2 linked regions of the Homo sapiens genome follow. The protein of the gene in region 1 binds, or shares a complex with, the protein of each later gene. Each region holds a gene or a part of one and is shown on either strand. Other genes may lie near its edges.

Region 1 (6,687 bases):
CTGTATCCTTCTCAGACCTTAGCATTGTAGATGCATATTAAGTTTTTAAAAATGGACAAACTCTTTTGCATAAAGGTTATACCATTTGACATTCCCACCAGCAGTGCACAAGAGTTTCAGTTTTTCCAAATCTTTGTCAGCACTTGGTATGGGTAATCTATTTTAATTTAAATTTTAGCTGTTCTAATAAATATATAATGGCATCTCACTGTAGTTTTAGTTTCCATTTCCTTAAAGATGAATTATGTTGAGTGTATTTTTATGTGCTTATTTGACATCCATGTATCATCTTTTTGCCCATTTTAAACATTTAATTGGTTGTTCTGCAATTATTGAATTTTGAGTGTTCTTTATAAATTCTGGATACAGGATCTTTTTGTTTTTTGAGACAGAGTCTTACTCTATCACCCAGGCTGGAGTGCAATGGCGCAATCTCAGCTCACTGCAAACTCCGCCTCCTGGGTTCAAGTGATTCTCCTGCCTCAGCCTCCCGAGTAGCTGGGATTACAGGTGCCCACCACCGTGCCCGGCTATTTTTTTTTTTTTTTTTTTTTTTTTTAGTAGAGATGGGGTTTCACCATGTTGGCCAGGCTGGTCTCAAACTCCTGACCTCAGGTGATCCACCCGCCAGGGCCTCCCAAAGTGCTGGGATTACAGGTGTGAGCCACCGTGCCTGGCCTGGATACAGGGTCTTCAGCAGCTGTGTGACTAACAAATATTAAGCCCCAATCTATGGTTTGCCTTTCAATGCTCTTAATGGTACCTTTTGAAGAACAGAAGTTCTTCATTTTGATGAAGTTCAAATTATTAAGCATTTATGTTATGTAGATTGTGCTTTTGGTGTGATATCTAAATCTTTAATCTTTGCCTACACCAAGATCACACAGATTTTCTCCCATGTTTTCTTGTAGAAGTTTTATGGTTTTAGCTGTTTATGAAAAGCCAATGATCTGTTTGGAGTTTATTTTTGTATAAAGAGTGAGGAATGGCTCAGATTCATTTTTTTAAGTATGGATATCTAATTGTTGTTGTAGCTTTTTTTTTAGTCTTTTCTCCACTGAACTGTGTTGTACTTTTGTAGAAATCAATAGACTGTAAATGTGCAAGCCTAGTTTTGGCTCTCTAGTTTTCCATTGGGCTTTATGCTTATTCTTTCTCCAATAACACAAAATTGTGTTATTATTTCTATACCTTTTAAAATATTTCTAAATCATTGCCCTATGGGACAAAATATACATCTTTAATTATTCAGTATCTACTTTCAAATAATACTGCGCTGCTTCACATGTTGTACAGGATCTTCTAACAGTGTACTCCTAATTCTTCCCTCTTGTATTTTGTGCAATTGTTGTCATATAGTTTACTTTTAAATTTGTATAAACATCATATAATACATTGATAAAGTATTTTCGCTTGAGACAAGGGATTGACAAACTAAAGGAGATAGTGGGACTGTAATGAATGAGAAACAGATGTTTATTGTGATCATCTGTTGATATTCTGAATTTGTTTATCCAGCAATTATTCTATCCTAATTTGGTGGAGAGAGGAGCCTGTGAACTGCAGCTTTCAGGTAACTTACAATCTGATTGAAGAGGCTGTATCACATATTCTTCAATTAAATGCTGCTTAGACCAGTTGGCTTGAATTGGTCCTTTTTACTTCTCTATGTTTTTTTTTTGGCCTTAATAACCTGGATGGAGAAAAAAAACATGCAGTCTGAGATGCAGTCGATGAGTGGCCCCTCCACTGTTTGCAGTCACTATGGCCTTCTGAAGTGTATGTATCATCTTCTCATAAAATTATTTTGTTCCCACCCTTCTAATACATTGGTCTGCCTTGGATCATACTCCTGAAGTGAATATCTGACCTGAGAAATACACTCCCACTTAGCAAGGTCACATACGCATATTTCTCAAATCTTGGCCTCCACTCTTACAGAGATAGCAGGCAGTGCAACCAACACTGAGACCTGGGGAAGAGCACCAAGTAGTGGCAGGACACGGGTAGGAGGGTGTGGTGGAAGGTCAAGAGTAGGGGTTTACATGGACTTAACTGCACTGGACTATGGTAGGTGCAGACGTGGTGGGACTGGCTAGGGAAATGTGTCCTCAAAGTATTTATTGTCTGTCTACTTTCAAAGACATTAGTCAGAATGACTTTTCCGACTCTGGGCAAGCTTTCTGCTTTAGACTTGTAGTATAAATAAGGAGCTCTTTTTTGGGCTCTGTGGGCACAACAATATGCGCCTCTGCCTTGAAAAGCCCATGTTCTCTTAACTGTGTATCTAGAATACATGTTTCCTAAGAGGGAGGTTCCTCAGTTCTGTGAGATGAACGTGTACTAAATATCAATGTCTTCCACTCTATATCCTGTTCAATGGCTCCAGTCCGGCTTTCTGATAGAAAACAAAAAATATCACCCCCTTGGAGAGTTGACTTTGTTCCATGCAGTTCCCACCTTTATGGTGCTATGAACTCCAGATGTCAGCTGTAGTTTTTCTCCATTTTTTGACAGTGTGAAGAATGTAAGTCGAACCTTATCTCCTTCCTTACATTTCATTGTGTCCTCGTTTCTAACCCCCAGTACTTCCATTTTCCCAGTGTTGTCACTTAGGTCAAATAATATGTTTTTCTTCTTTTCTGTTACCTATAAAAGAAAATCAACACCCAGCCTCTGATAATCGGATTAATGAATGCCGCATCAGTCACACATCAGACATGCCAGAAGAAGGCTCTAAAAAGAAATCAGTTGATTCTTGAACAACACAGATTTTACCTGTGCAGGTCCATTTATATGGGAATTTTCCTCTGTCTCTGCCACCCCAAGATGGCAAGACCAACCCTCCTCTTCCTCCTCAGTCTACTTAACATCAAGACAATGAGGATGAAGAACTTTATGATGATCTACTTCCACTTAATGAATAGTTAGTATATTTTCTTTTTTATAATTTTATTAATAACATTTTTCTCTAGCTTACTTTTTAAGAATATAGTATATAATATGTATAACACAAAAATATGTGTTAAGTGACTGCTTATGTTGTCCGTAAGTCTTCTGATCAAGAGTAGGCTATTAAGCAGTTAAGTTTTTGGGGAGTCAAAAATTATATGCAGATTATCAACTGCTCAGGGTCAGAAGCCCTAATCCCTACATTGTTCAAGGGACAACTTGAAAAAATGTTTCTGCTTTGAAACTAGCAGGTATATATCTAATAGATGTTAGCAAGTTCACACAGAGGAGGCAGACGTGTCTTACTTAGAACATGTTGTCTCCTATGCCTATCTTTCCAGTCCTAAATTCCCTTCCTTTAGGAGGAGGCCAGGGTGGCCCATAGAAGCAACAACTGCTGGATAGAGAAGATGGAGCTTCTCCAGGGCCAGCAGCCAGATTAGTCAAGGGAAAAAAGAAGACCCTGGGTTGGAAGAGAGCTATTTATTCTATTTGTTTATTTTTTGAAATGGAGTTTCGCTCTTTCACCCAGGCTGGAGTGCGATGGCGCAATCTTGGCTCACTGCAACCTCCAACGCCCTGGGTTCAAGCGATTCTCTTGCCTCAGCCTCCCGAGTAGCTGGGATTATAGGTGTCCGCCAATACACCCGGCTAATTTTTGTATTTTTACTAGAGACAGGTTTTGCCATGTTGGCCAGGATGATCTGGAACTCCTCAACTCAGGTGATCCATGCGCCTTGGCCTCCCAAAGTGCTAGGATTACAGGCATGAGCTGCCGCGCCCAGCCTGAAGAGAGCTATTTAAAACAAGTCCAGGAGAGACATGAGGTAATGATGCAAGACCCAGCCAAGAGTCTAGTAAGTAATCAAAGACAAGAAACAATTCACAATCAAGTCTAGATCCAAAGGGAACAGGAGGTTGGTCAGTTATTTAGGAGATTGATCGTATTTTAGGTTTAATTTTATGGACTAAATCAGTATATATGAGTGGATAGCTGGCCAGATTGAAAGCTGAAAACTGGGATAAAGAACATGACTTTCCTATCCAAGGTCATTTTACACTTGAGTTTTCCAGGAGGACTGGAGAGTCTTCCTATCAATTCCTTCTGAAACTAACCCAGGGCAGCAGAGGTTATTCTGAGGCTCTGAATGCAGGGGCAGCAGGTTCTCTCTCTATGGTTCTTTAGGTCCTGCCCTAGACCAGAAAAAGTCATCCCACAAGGCTAGTTCCCTGAGGCTCAGAATCATAATAAATACTTTATTATTTCTCACTTCTAATAAGTATCCTGGAGGAGCGCCTCTGCCCCGCGGCCCTGTCTGGGAAGTGAGGAGCGCCTCTGCCCGGCCGCCGTGCAACCTTCCAAGTGTGAAGTGACAGCCTTGTGTGTGATCTTTTCTGTCTTCCCCCAGTTTGCATTTTTGACATTAAAGTTTACTTTTTAATTAAAAAAAAAGTCTCCTCAGGCTAACTCTTTCTTCTGTTTTCTTCATTTAATCACAGTTCTTTAATCCTGCCTTGCGTATTGGTTTTTCAGGTCATTAATCTGGTTTATTACTCAACTACACTTACTTTGCATTCACAACAATAGTCACTTAAAATAAAGATAATCACAACTATAGTCACTTAAAATAAAGATAATATGTACAAAGTACAAAAATAATGCAGAAATAAAAATTATGTGAATGAACTAATTCCTTTTTCAGAGGCTACTGGGGTAAGTTGAAATAGGATCGTGACATTTTTGACAATAAAAACAATTTTTGAGTTTTTGTATGAATTTTGGCATGTTTACTCTGCAGCTCTTTAGAACTTTGTATTTTTTTATTTTGTCTATATAGAAAGACATTAAAACCATTTCCAAAGTTTCTTTAAGATCAGATGGGAAATACGTTATTCTTACTAATCAATATGAAATTAGATATGAAAACTTACCTTCTGGACTACAAACAAACCATTCACAATTGTTCCAAGGGGCTGAGTTTGAAGCGTGTTGATCTTCGGGGTTTCACCAGCTTTTCTGATAATGTTCAGCGGGACATTAACCTTTTGGTCAGATTCAGCATCTAACACACGTGAGGCGCTATTTACCTCTAAGAAACCACTGTGCCGATAATATCTTGCTATTATAATTATTCTCTTTGGAATGAATTTATCTTTCAGCAGTGTATTAAAAACTTTTACAAAGAAGAATTCCTTTTCTGTAGCCACTGTAGCATGAAACATCTCCTGCTTGCCTTCTTGGGTCTCAAACGTGAAGGGCTTCTTTGCTTTCAGTACCATAACTGGCAAACAGCGCTTCTGAAACCCTTCTCTGATAGATTCCTGCTGGGCCACCATCTGTTTCTGTTCAGGCTGAAGACAAGAGAAGAAAGATATCAGCTGTGAGTCAAAAAGGTACTATTGAAAGGACCTTACTTCACCTACAGTGCTAAACCTCAGAAAGCCAGCAGAAGATAGGTGGAATCAAGGGAAGAGATACAGAGGGGATACGAAGAGAGTTGAGGCCTAGAACGATCCAGATAGAACAGAGAGTGCAGAAGGAAGATTTCGACTCCTGTATTCAGATAAGACGGTGTAACACGTTTTGGAGGTAGGATCCCTGAAACCAAATCCTTGCTTTGCCATGTACTATATATAAAGACTTCATCAGATTTCTGAAATACTGCTAAGCCTCGGGGTAAATCTGACAAATCTGATTCCATCTTCTATCAATTCCATTCGGGCATGTGTCCTTGTTTCTCTATCCAATACTGTCCTAAATGTTCATTTTACTCTGGTATAAAAGTGAGGGAGCTCAGTGACCAGCACAGGGCTCCCCAAATTCCTAGGGAGCATTGTACATAACAAAATGCAGATTACATTTAATGTGAGTTAAGGGGGAGACCTAGTTCAGAGATCTTATGAGTGAGTTAAAGGAGAAATTTAAAAGGAGAATTAATACTACATTTATGGATTTACCCTTAAATAATGAATTATGCACTAAGGTTTATATTTAAAAAGTACATCTTATTATTTGAAATTATAAAAAAAGAAATAATTTAAATACCTAAAAAATAGATTTGGTTAAATAAAATAGGTATAGTCACAAAAAGATTACTGTGCAAATATTAAAAATGCTTTAGAGAAATATGATAAACTGTTATAACTGATTCAATAAAGGGAAAGGTCCTAAACAGATAAACAATCTGTTTCTTATTGGATAAATAAGCAGTTAAAGCACACACACAAACACACTAGAGAGATATTTACCAACATCAATGTATTTTTTTCCTAGACGATACAATTATAGATAATTTTATTCTCTTCTCTGTGTTTTTTATTTTTCTGAATTAACAGAGATAAGACACCTCTTTTTGGTTTGTTTTGGGAGAAAATACTACTTTTTAAAAGCCACTTGCCATTTAGAACCAAAGGGAAATACAGGGCAAAACAAACAGAGGCATAAAAAGCCAAGCGTAGGAGTCTCTGAAGGGTGTCTCTGATGTGACCTGGAGCTTGGGGCAGTGGAGCTTGGGCCAGTAAGGGGCCCTGATGGGCAGCATAACTGACTGCATTTGGATCAATGCAGGGAAAGGTCAGCTCCACTGAGGTCCACTACAGAAGTCCTTCTCTTTGGTCCATGTATCTTTATTTGGGTCTTCCAGACTGAAAAATGCATATTTTCATTACTGATGAGGGAATCACACCATTTATACTTGAACCTTGTTTTCCTGAAAAATCCAGAAGTTTCTGGGC
Region 2 (7,952 bases), on another chromosome or scaffold:
GGGCATTTATATTTGGATGGTGGAATTATACATAATTTTAATTTTCCTTTTTATCTTTTCTGTATTGTCTAAAATGAATACACTAAGCATTGTTATCCTCAGAAAAAAATAATTGAGGGATGGGGGAAAGGAAGTCCTGCTTTCATTTGATTCTTTGGTTGGTTTTATTCTGTAAGATGAGACTTTAACAGAGGTTAGAATGCATTAAAAATTGTAAAGACAGTTGACCTAATGGCACTAAACAGGGTTAGATCTAGTTTAGATCTTTTCCAGCATGTGAATAAGAATGGATCTTTAAATAAAGATTTTAACTAGGTATATGTTTTAGAATAAGTCATACATGTACATGGTAAAAATTCAAACAGTACAAACTGTGCAGCAAGGTATGGGAAATAAAGCAGCTCTCACTGTCACCTCCACCCATCAGCCTTCTCACACTGCACGCCCACATCTGTGTGTAATTCTGCTTTTCTTTAACATTACTGAAGGAACTTCCTGTGCATTTTTTGTCAGAGCTCTTCTGTGAATACACAAAATATGTACTGATCAATACATTATGTAGATCACGCAGGCTCAACCACATTGATCTTCCTATTCTTTCTAGTAGCCAAATAGAGTTCCCTGGAATATGATTAATAGCTTGCCTAAATCTTCTAATGCTGATAAACAGTTGTTTCTGCTCTTTCGTTATTTCAAGGAATGCTACCATGAATAGCCTTATATATGGTTTTGAGTATACTTGTTTAAGTGAATGTAGGAAAAACTCTTGGAAGTTAAATTGTGGGCCAGTTTATGTGAATTTTATATTTTGACAGAGATGGCTAAATTACCCACCTGTTTTTTTGTTTTGTTTTGGTTTTGGTTTTGCTTTTTTTTTTTAAGAGTTGGGGTCTTGCTACCTGGGGTCTTGCCACCTGGGGTCTTGCCCAGGGTAGACCTGAACTCCTGGGCCACGTTGGTTTATTTTACTGCATTCCCAGGGCCTAGAGCAACGATTGACACGTGCTAGCAGTATCTATTGGAAATTCTGGCCAACTTGCAATAGACCTGATTATTTCTACACTGAACATGTCTAAGATAGCTATTACTATTCATTCAGGAAAGCCCAGACAATTATCATGCCAGCAGCCTGAGACAGTAGCCAGTAATAGCCTGGTGTGGTAGTTTGCTCCTGTAGTCTCAGCTACTCAGCAGGCTGAGGTGGGAGGATGGCTCTAGCCTGGGAGGTGGAGGTTGCAATGAGCCAAGATTGCGCCCTGCACTCCAGCCTGGGTGACAGAGTGAGACCCTGTCTCAAAAATAAAAATAAGAATAAAAAATAAACCAGCAAAAGTTTCTGCCCTCACAGAGCTTCCATTCTAGTGAGAGGGTAGTTTGTCATCAGGAGGGTGACGCCGGTAGGGCTGGGGGCCAGCTCCCTGCAGGGAACAAACATGATCGCAGTGGGGTGGGAGTAGGGGATGAGTCCCCAGAGCCTCTGTGGTTTCCATTTCCACACAAAAAAACCACTGCTGCTGTAATCAGGAGGGGGAAAAGATTTTTAAAAATTTTCTTTCAGGGAATGGAAGGAAAGGATATTTTTGAAAGTAAGACTTTGAAAACTAAAAGTTTTGGGTCACTTAAAAACTCAAAATCTTTAGGTCACTTTAAAAATATTTAATCTTGGAGCTGGAGGCCATTATTCTAGGTAATTAGCTGGGTGTGGTGGTGTGTCCCTGTAATCCCAACTACTAGGAGGCCGAGGCAGGAGGATTGCTTGAACCTGGGAGGCGGAGGTTGCAGTGAGCCGAGATCGCGACACTGCACTCCAGCTTGGGTGACAGAGCAAGACTGGGTCTCAAAAGAAAAAAAAAAAACGAAAACTAAATACCGTATGTTCTCACTTAAAAGTGGGAGCTAAGCTATGAGGATGCAAAGACATACAGAGGGATATAATGGACTTTGGGGATTGATGGTGGGGTTGAATGGGAGGTTGGTCCTAATAGGTCCTAGTACGTCCCCTACTTCTAAGTCTTCCAGTCTGTCCTTTGCACTTTGAATGTTAATTCCAAGTTGGATAATGTCATTCTCATTTTTACAGTCCTTTCTTAGCTCCTCATCACCTCCAGGACAAAGCCTAAACCCCTCGCCCCATGGTAATGCGGCCCCTTTGTGACATGGTACCTGGCTAGAGCTTCATCCCTTTGTCCCATCACTCTCCATCCCAGACACTTTGTAGTTACTTTATTGAGCTCCTTGTGCCTGCCTGAATGGACTTGAAAGTTCTTACCTCCATCTTTTACATTAATTGTTTCCTGTAAGAATTGTGCTTTCTCGCATTCTCCCCAAAATCCCTTCCCCATAGGAAGCCCTTCTCCCAGGCTAAGTTAAGGTTTCTTCCTCTACATCCCTACCACACTCTGGTCACAACCCTCTAACCATTGGCTTGTTTTTTTTGTTTTTTGTGTTTTTTTTTTTTTTGTGAGACGGAGTCTTGCCCTGTCACCCAGGCTGGAGTGCAGTGGTGCAATCTCCGCTCACTGCAACCTCCACCTCCTGGGTTCAAGCGATTCTCCTGCCCCAGCCTCCTGAGTAGCTGGGATTACAGGCACGTGCCTCCACACCTGGCTAATTTTTGCACTTTTAGTAGAGACGGGGTTTCACCATGTTAGTCAGGCTGGTCTCAAACTCCTGACCTCGTGATCCGCCTGCCTTGGCCTCCCAAAGTGTTGGGATTAGAGGCGTGAGCCACCGCGCCCAGCCCATTGGCTTGTTTGTATGTCTACCTTCCTAAACAGTAAGAGGGAACTTGTCTGGTGTTCTTTTTTTCTCTCCTGTGCTGACAGCACAATGACCAGTACCTAGTAGTTGCAGTAGCCTTTGATGAACAAGCCAGCAAATGGTACTTTTCTTCCTTATCTGAACATACCATTTATTTTGACTTAGATTATATTCTCCTGCCTTTTAAAAAGATGGACTTCAGCAGAAATCTTTATGATATTGGGGAACAACTGGACAGTGAAGATCTGGCCTCCCTCAAGTTCCTGAGCCTGGACTACATTCCGCAAAGGAAGCAAGAACCCATCAAGGATGCCTTGATGTTATTCCAGAGACTCCAGGAAAAGAGAATGTTGGAGGAAAGCAATCTGTCCTTCCTGAAGGAGCTGCTCTTCCGAATTAATAGACTGGATTTGCTGATTACCTACCTAAACACTAGAAAGGAGGAGATGGAAAGGGAACTTCAGACACCAGGCAGGGCTCAAATTTCTGCCTACAGGTGGGTGGAAACTCCCATTGTGGGACTGGGAGGTGTGGGTTGAATGGACAGCCTCTGAGCTGATTGGGGCTTTTTTTTGTGGTACCCTGCCTAGTGCCTGGGAACCCAGCAGTGCCACAATTCTAAGCTTCTACAGAAAGACAGTAGTGCCTTGGGTGGTCCTGCTAAAGGCTGTAAAACTTAGCTTCTCCCCACCCTAGAGAGAGTGGGTAAACAAAGGCGTGAGAGAGAAACCACATTCAGTATCACTTGGGAGGCTTTGGGAAGATGTCCCACCGGAGCCAGATTAAGAAATTTAGGGGCCTTATATATAATTCTATAGAAATGCTAAGACCATAAAATAAAAATTTATTTTTCAAAGTGAAACATTACTTAGAGGTATGCTGAAGTTATAATAGAGTTTTTCTAAGTGTTCTCATTTTTTTCCTCTCTTATCTTGATGCCTCTCGATATCCAGATTGTGTGCTTACTTTGCCCATCCATTGAGTAAAGCATCATGGCTTCCCACCCTGAAATCCCCCTCCCACCTGCTTGCGGATGGCTATGAAAATTTTCAATGAGATTTAAGGGTTTTCTGCCACACTTAAAGACTCGAATGACTAAGTTCTTTACGGAGCTGTAAGCCGCTGGCCTGGCACATACAGCTAGGCAGTCTCCACCGAGGCTGCCCAGTTCCTGTGAGCCCGGCTGTATGACAGTTCTAAGCTTCTATAGGAAGACAGTGGCACGTTGGGTCATCCTGCCAAAGGCTGTAAAACTCAGCTTCTCCCCACCCTAGGGAGAGTGGGTAACCAAAGGTGTGAGAGAGAAACCCCATTCAGTTACAACTTCATGATGCTGTGACAAGACTTTAAAAACAGAAACACATTGTCACTTTCTCTCTTTCAACATCTCCTATTATCGGACACTACTTAAAGCAATTTTAGCTTTGCTTTCAGGAAACTTCTACTGAAGTCTTCGTTCTGGGCCCATTTCATTGTCTCTGTTTGCTTGTTGATAACTATGGCATGTGAGATGGAAAGGGTTCACAACCAGGGCTGACAGCTGCTGTCCTCTGATGGCTCAGCCCATGAATGCTCTGGTCTTTCTATTCTCAGAGACTATTTTTTGTTTTGAGGCTTGACTATTTTTTGTTTTGTTTTGTTTTGTTTTTGAGACGGAGTCTCGCTTCATCACCCAGGCTAGAGTGCAGTGGCATGATCTCGGCTCACTGCAACATCTACCTCCAGGGTTCAAGTGATTCTTCTGCCTCAGCCTCCTGAGTAGCTGGGATTACAGGTGTGTGCCACCATGCCCAGCTAATTTTGTATTTTTAGTAGGACGGAGTTCCACCATGTTGGCCAGGCTGGTCTCGAACTCCTGACCTTAAGTTATCCACCAGCCTTGACCTCTCAAAGTGCTGGGATTATAGGTGTGAGCCACCATGCCCAGCCAAGGCTTGACCATTTTGATTTTAAGTGAAAAAAGAGATATTCTGGGCCGGGTGAGGTGGCTCACGCCTGTAATCCCAGCACTTTGGGATGCTGAGGAGAGCTGATCACCTGAGGTCAGGAGTTCAAGACTAGCCTGGCCAACATGGTGAAACCTCATCTCTACTAAAAATACAAAAATTAGCTGGGTGTGGCGGCTCACGCCTGTAATCCCAGCTACTTGGGAGGCTGAGGCAGGAGAATTGCTTGAACCCAGGAGGTGGAGGTTGCAGTAAGCTGAGATTATGCCATTGCACTCCAGCCTGGGCAACAAGAGTGAAACTCTGTCTCAAAAAAAAAAAGAAAGAGATATTCTGGGTATATAAGTTTCCTAGGGCTGCTGTAACAAAGTAACACAAACTAGCAGGTTTAAAACAGTTTTTAAAATGTGTTTTCACAGTTCTGGAGGCCTGAGTCAGAAGTCAAGATGCCAACAGTGTTGGTTCCCTTTTAAGAGGCTCCGAGGAATAATCTTTTTCATGCCTTTCCCTGCTTCGGGTGGGTGGAGGAATCCTCAGTGCTCCTTGTCTTGTAGATGAGGCACAGCAGTCTCTGCCTATGTTCCCTTCTCTGTGTCTAAATCTCCCTCTTATGAGACAGTCACTGGATTAGGAATTAGGGCCCACCTAATCCAGTATGGCCTCATCTTTGTGTGTGTGTGTGTGTGTGTGTGTGTGTGTGTGTGTGTGTGTGTGTGAGACAGTGTCTCACTACATCGCCCAAGCTGGAGTGCAGTGGCATGATCTCGGCTCAGTGCAACCTCCACCTCCTGGGTTCAAGCAATCCTCCCACCTCAGCCTCCCAAGTAGCTGGGACTACAGGCACCCGCCACCATGTCTGGCTAATTTTTGTATTTTTTTGTAGAGATGGAGTTTCAAAATGTTGCCCAGGCTAGTCTTGAACTCCTGGGCTCATGCAATCTGCCCACCTCAGCCTCCCAAGTTCTGGGATTACGGGCATGAGCCACTGCGCCTGGCCAGCATGACCTCATCTTAATGAGATTTTATCTGCAAACGTCCTGGGTCCACATAAGGTCGCATTCTCATATTCCAGATAGACATGAATTTTGGGGAAGAGGGGAGAACACTATTCAACCAGTACACTAGATAGCTTTGGTTTACTAGCATTGTGAAGTCTTTATAAGGCACTTATTCATTAAGGCGCCAGTTAGTCCTAAAAACCCACAGCCCCAGAACAAGGAAAGCCGAGGGGGGTCTCATCTTGTGCCCACCATCTTGGTCCTTTGAAGGTTCCACTTCTGCCGCATGAGCTGGGCTGAAGCAAACAGCCAGTGCCAGACACAGTCTGTACCTTTCTGGCGGAGGGTCGATCATCTATTAATAAGGCAGGATCTCTCTTAAAATCTTTAATGTATTGGCTTAGAGATAAAAGGGTCCGGGCAATCCTGACTTACTGCTTGTTCATTATCATTGAATACTAGCCAGAAGCTAATAAATATGCTAGGGTGACCACTTACCATTATAAGAAAACACTAGACATTTTATTTTCCAGTTATAATTGCTACCTATAAAATAAAGATCTTATAAACTATTCAGGTTCATTACTAAATGGTGATGGTACAAGAAAGCCTATAGGCTTCAATAATGAGGAAAGCAAAAGGGTAAATACCTTGTAATAAAGGTGAAAGAGTCAGAGTAGCTTTGGATTAGATCCAATTTTGGCCAAACTGAAAGCTTTAGATAAACACTTCTAGGGTAGAGAGTCCATGAGAAGGGGGATAAGGCAGATGGTAATACTGAGTAATTTCTGTTTCTACGCCATTTTTATTTTCAGAATTTTACTTTTCTAATTAAATTTTAAAGTCAACGTGTTTTTGTATTAAAATTATTTTCCTTTACACCATAGTATTGAAAGGTTTGCTGACTTCTAAAACATTCCTTTGTTCACCTATTCGACAAGCATATTCCAAGAGCCTAAATGTGCCAATCACATAAATGTGATAGGCATAGATTAGGAAATAGTAACACCTATCACTCATTGAGCACTTAGTGTGTTGCCAAAGACTGATTTAAGTACTTCACATAAACTTATTTGTGTAACCCTCGAAACCTTCCTATGATGTGGTTACGGATAATTATCTTCAGTCTATGGACGAGGAAAAAATGTGTAACATGTCTAAAGTTAACACTGCTCAAAGATAGTGGAACCAAGGCTCCAACACCAATAGCCTGGGTCCGCTGAGCTCAATCATTGCACCTCACAACCCTCTGGGTTTATGAAAATAAAAAGGGTACGGACCTGGCCACTAGGGGACTTGAACAGTTTCTAAACAGACAATTATTTTCTGTTTTTATTTTTAGTGTGGTGGCATGATCACAGCTCACTGCAGCCTCAACCTTCTGGGCTCAAGTGATCCTCTCACCTCAGCTTCTGGAGTAGCTGGGACCACAGGTGCATGCCACCACACCCGGCTAATTTTTAAATGTTTTTGGTAGAGATGGGGTCTTGCTATGTTGCCCAGGCTGGTCTCAAACCCCTGGGCTCAAGTGATCCTCCTTCTGCCTTGGCCTCCTAATGCGCTGGAATTAGAGGCATGAACCACTGCACCAGGCCAACAGACAATTATGTGTGTTATCGTTTTGGGGTTACTAAGTCATAGTGGAGTGAATGCAGCTTTGAGGATGCTCAGGCAATGCTTGAGCTGATTGTTCATGGATGGGCCTCTGCAGATAGACAAGGGGATGGGGTGTAGCGGCACCACAGAAAGGGGTGAGGGCAGGGCAGCTGGGTGTGTTTGGCTTCAGGTCCTTTCGTGTTTGCGGTCTGGTCTGTGATAGGGATGTATTCGGAGACTTTGTATTCCAGAACCGAATGCTTGGCCGTCTTACTGAAGATAATGACTGGGAGAATACTGACCAGTTTTGATTAGGGAAGTCATGAGCCAATGTGCATTTTGAAAAGCATAATTTCCAAAAGGCAAAGCATTTTGCTATTGCAACAAAATCTCCATTTTACAGAAAAAAAAAAAGGAAAACAAGATTTACTCAACTGAAATAAACTGAAAGAAAAGTTGATAGAACTTTAAATTGTTAAGGGTGGGAAAGTCGGGGAGGAGCCAGTAGACTTCTGTGTCACCACACCAGCCTCTTTCCAAGGGCTCAACTCATAAACCATGCCATTAACTGGCTTTATGTTGAAGGGAGGCCTTTGGAATCAAGCCCACTGTGACTCCATATATCAAATGGGAAATTATTTGGGAAAAGATT

The links.
Region 2: AIM2 (region 1) and CASP8 share a complex: the UniProt entries of both Homo sapiens proteins name them as parts of the AIM2 PANoptosome complex.

The regions. Positions count from the first base shown.
Region 1 is NC_000001.11:159,061,026-159,067,712, forward strand, and holds the end of AIM2 (interferon-inducible protein AIM2), read right to left. Parts: intron 5,305-6,687; coding exon 4,885-5,304; intron 2,650-4,884; coding exon 2,461-2,649; intron 1,694-2,460; coding exon 1,667-1,693; 3' UTR 1,459-1,666; downstream 1-1,458. UniProt on the Homo sapiens protein: Sensor component of the AIM2 inflammasome, which mediates inflammasome activation in response to the presence of double-stranded DNA (dsDNA) in the cytosol, leading to subsequent pyroptosis.
Region 2 is NC_000002.12:201,263,536-201,271,487, forward strand, and holds part of CASP8 (caspase-8 isoform 2 precursor), read left to right. Parts: intron 1-2,925; coding exon of another isoform or gene 2,926-2,951; coding exon 2,952-3,256; intron 3,257-5,974; coding exon of another isoform or gene 5,975-6,070; intron 6,071-7,952. UniProt on the Homo sapiens protein: Thiol protease that plays a key role in programmed cell death by acting as a molecular switch for apoptosis, necroptosis and pyroptosis, and is required to prevent tissue damage during embryonic development and adulthood.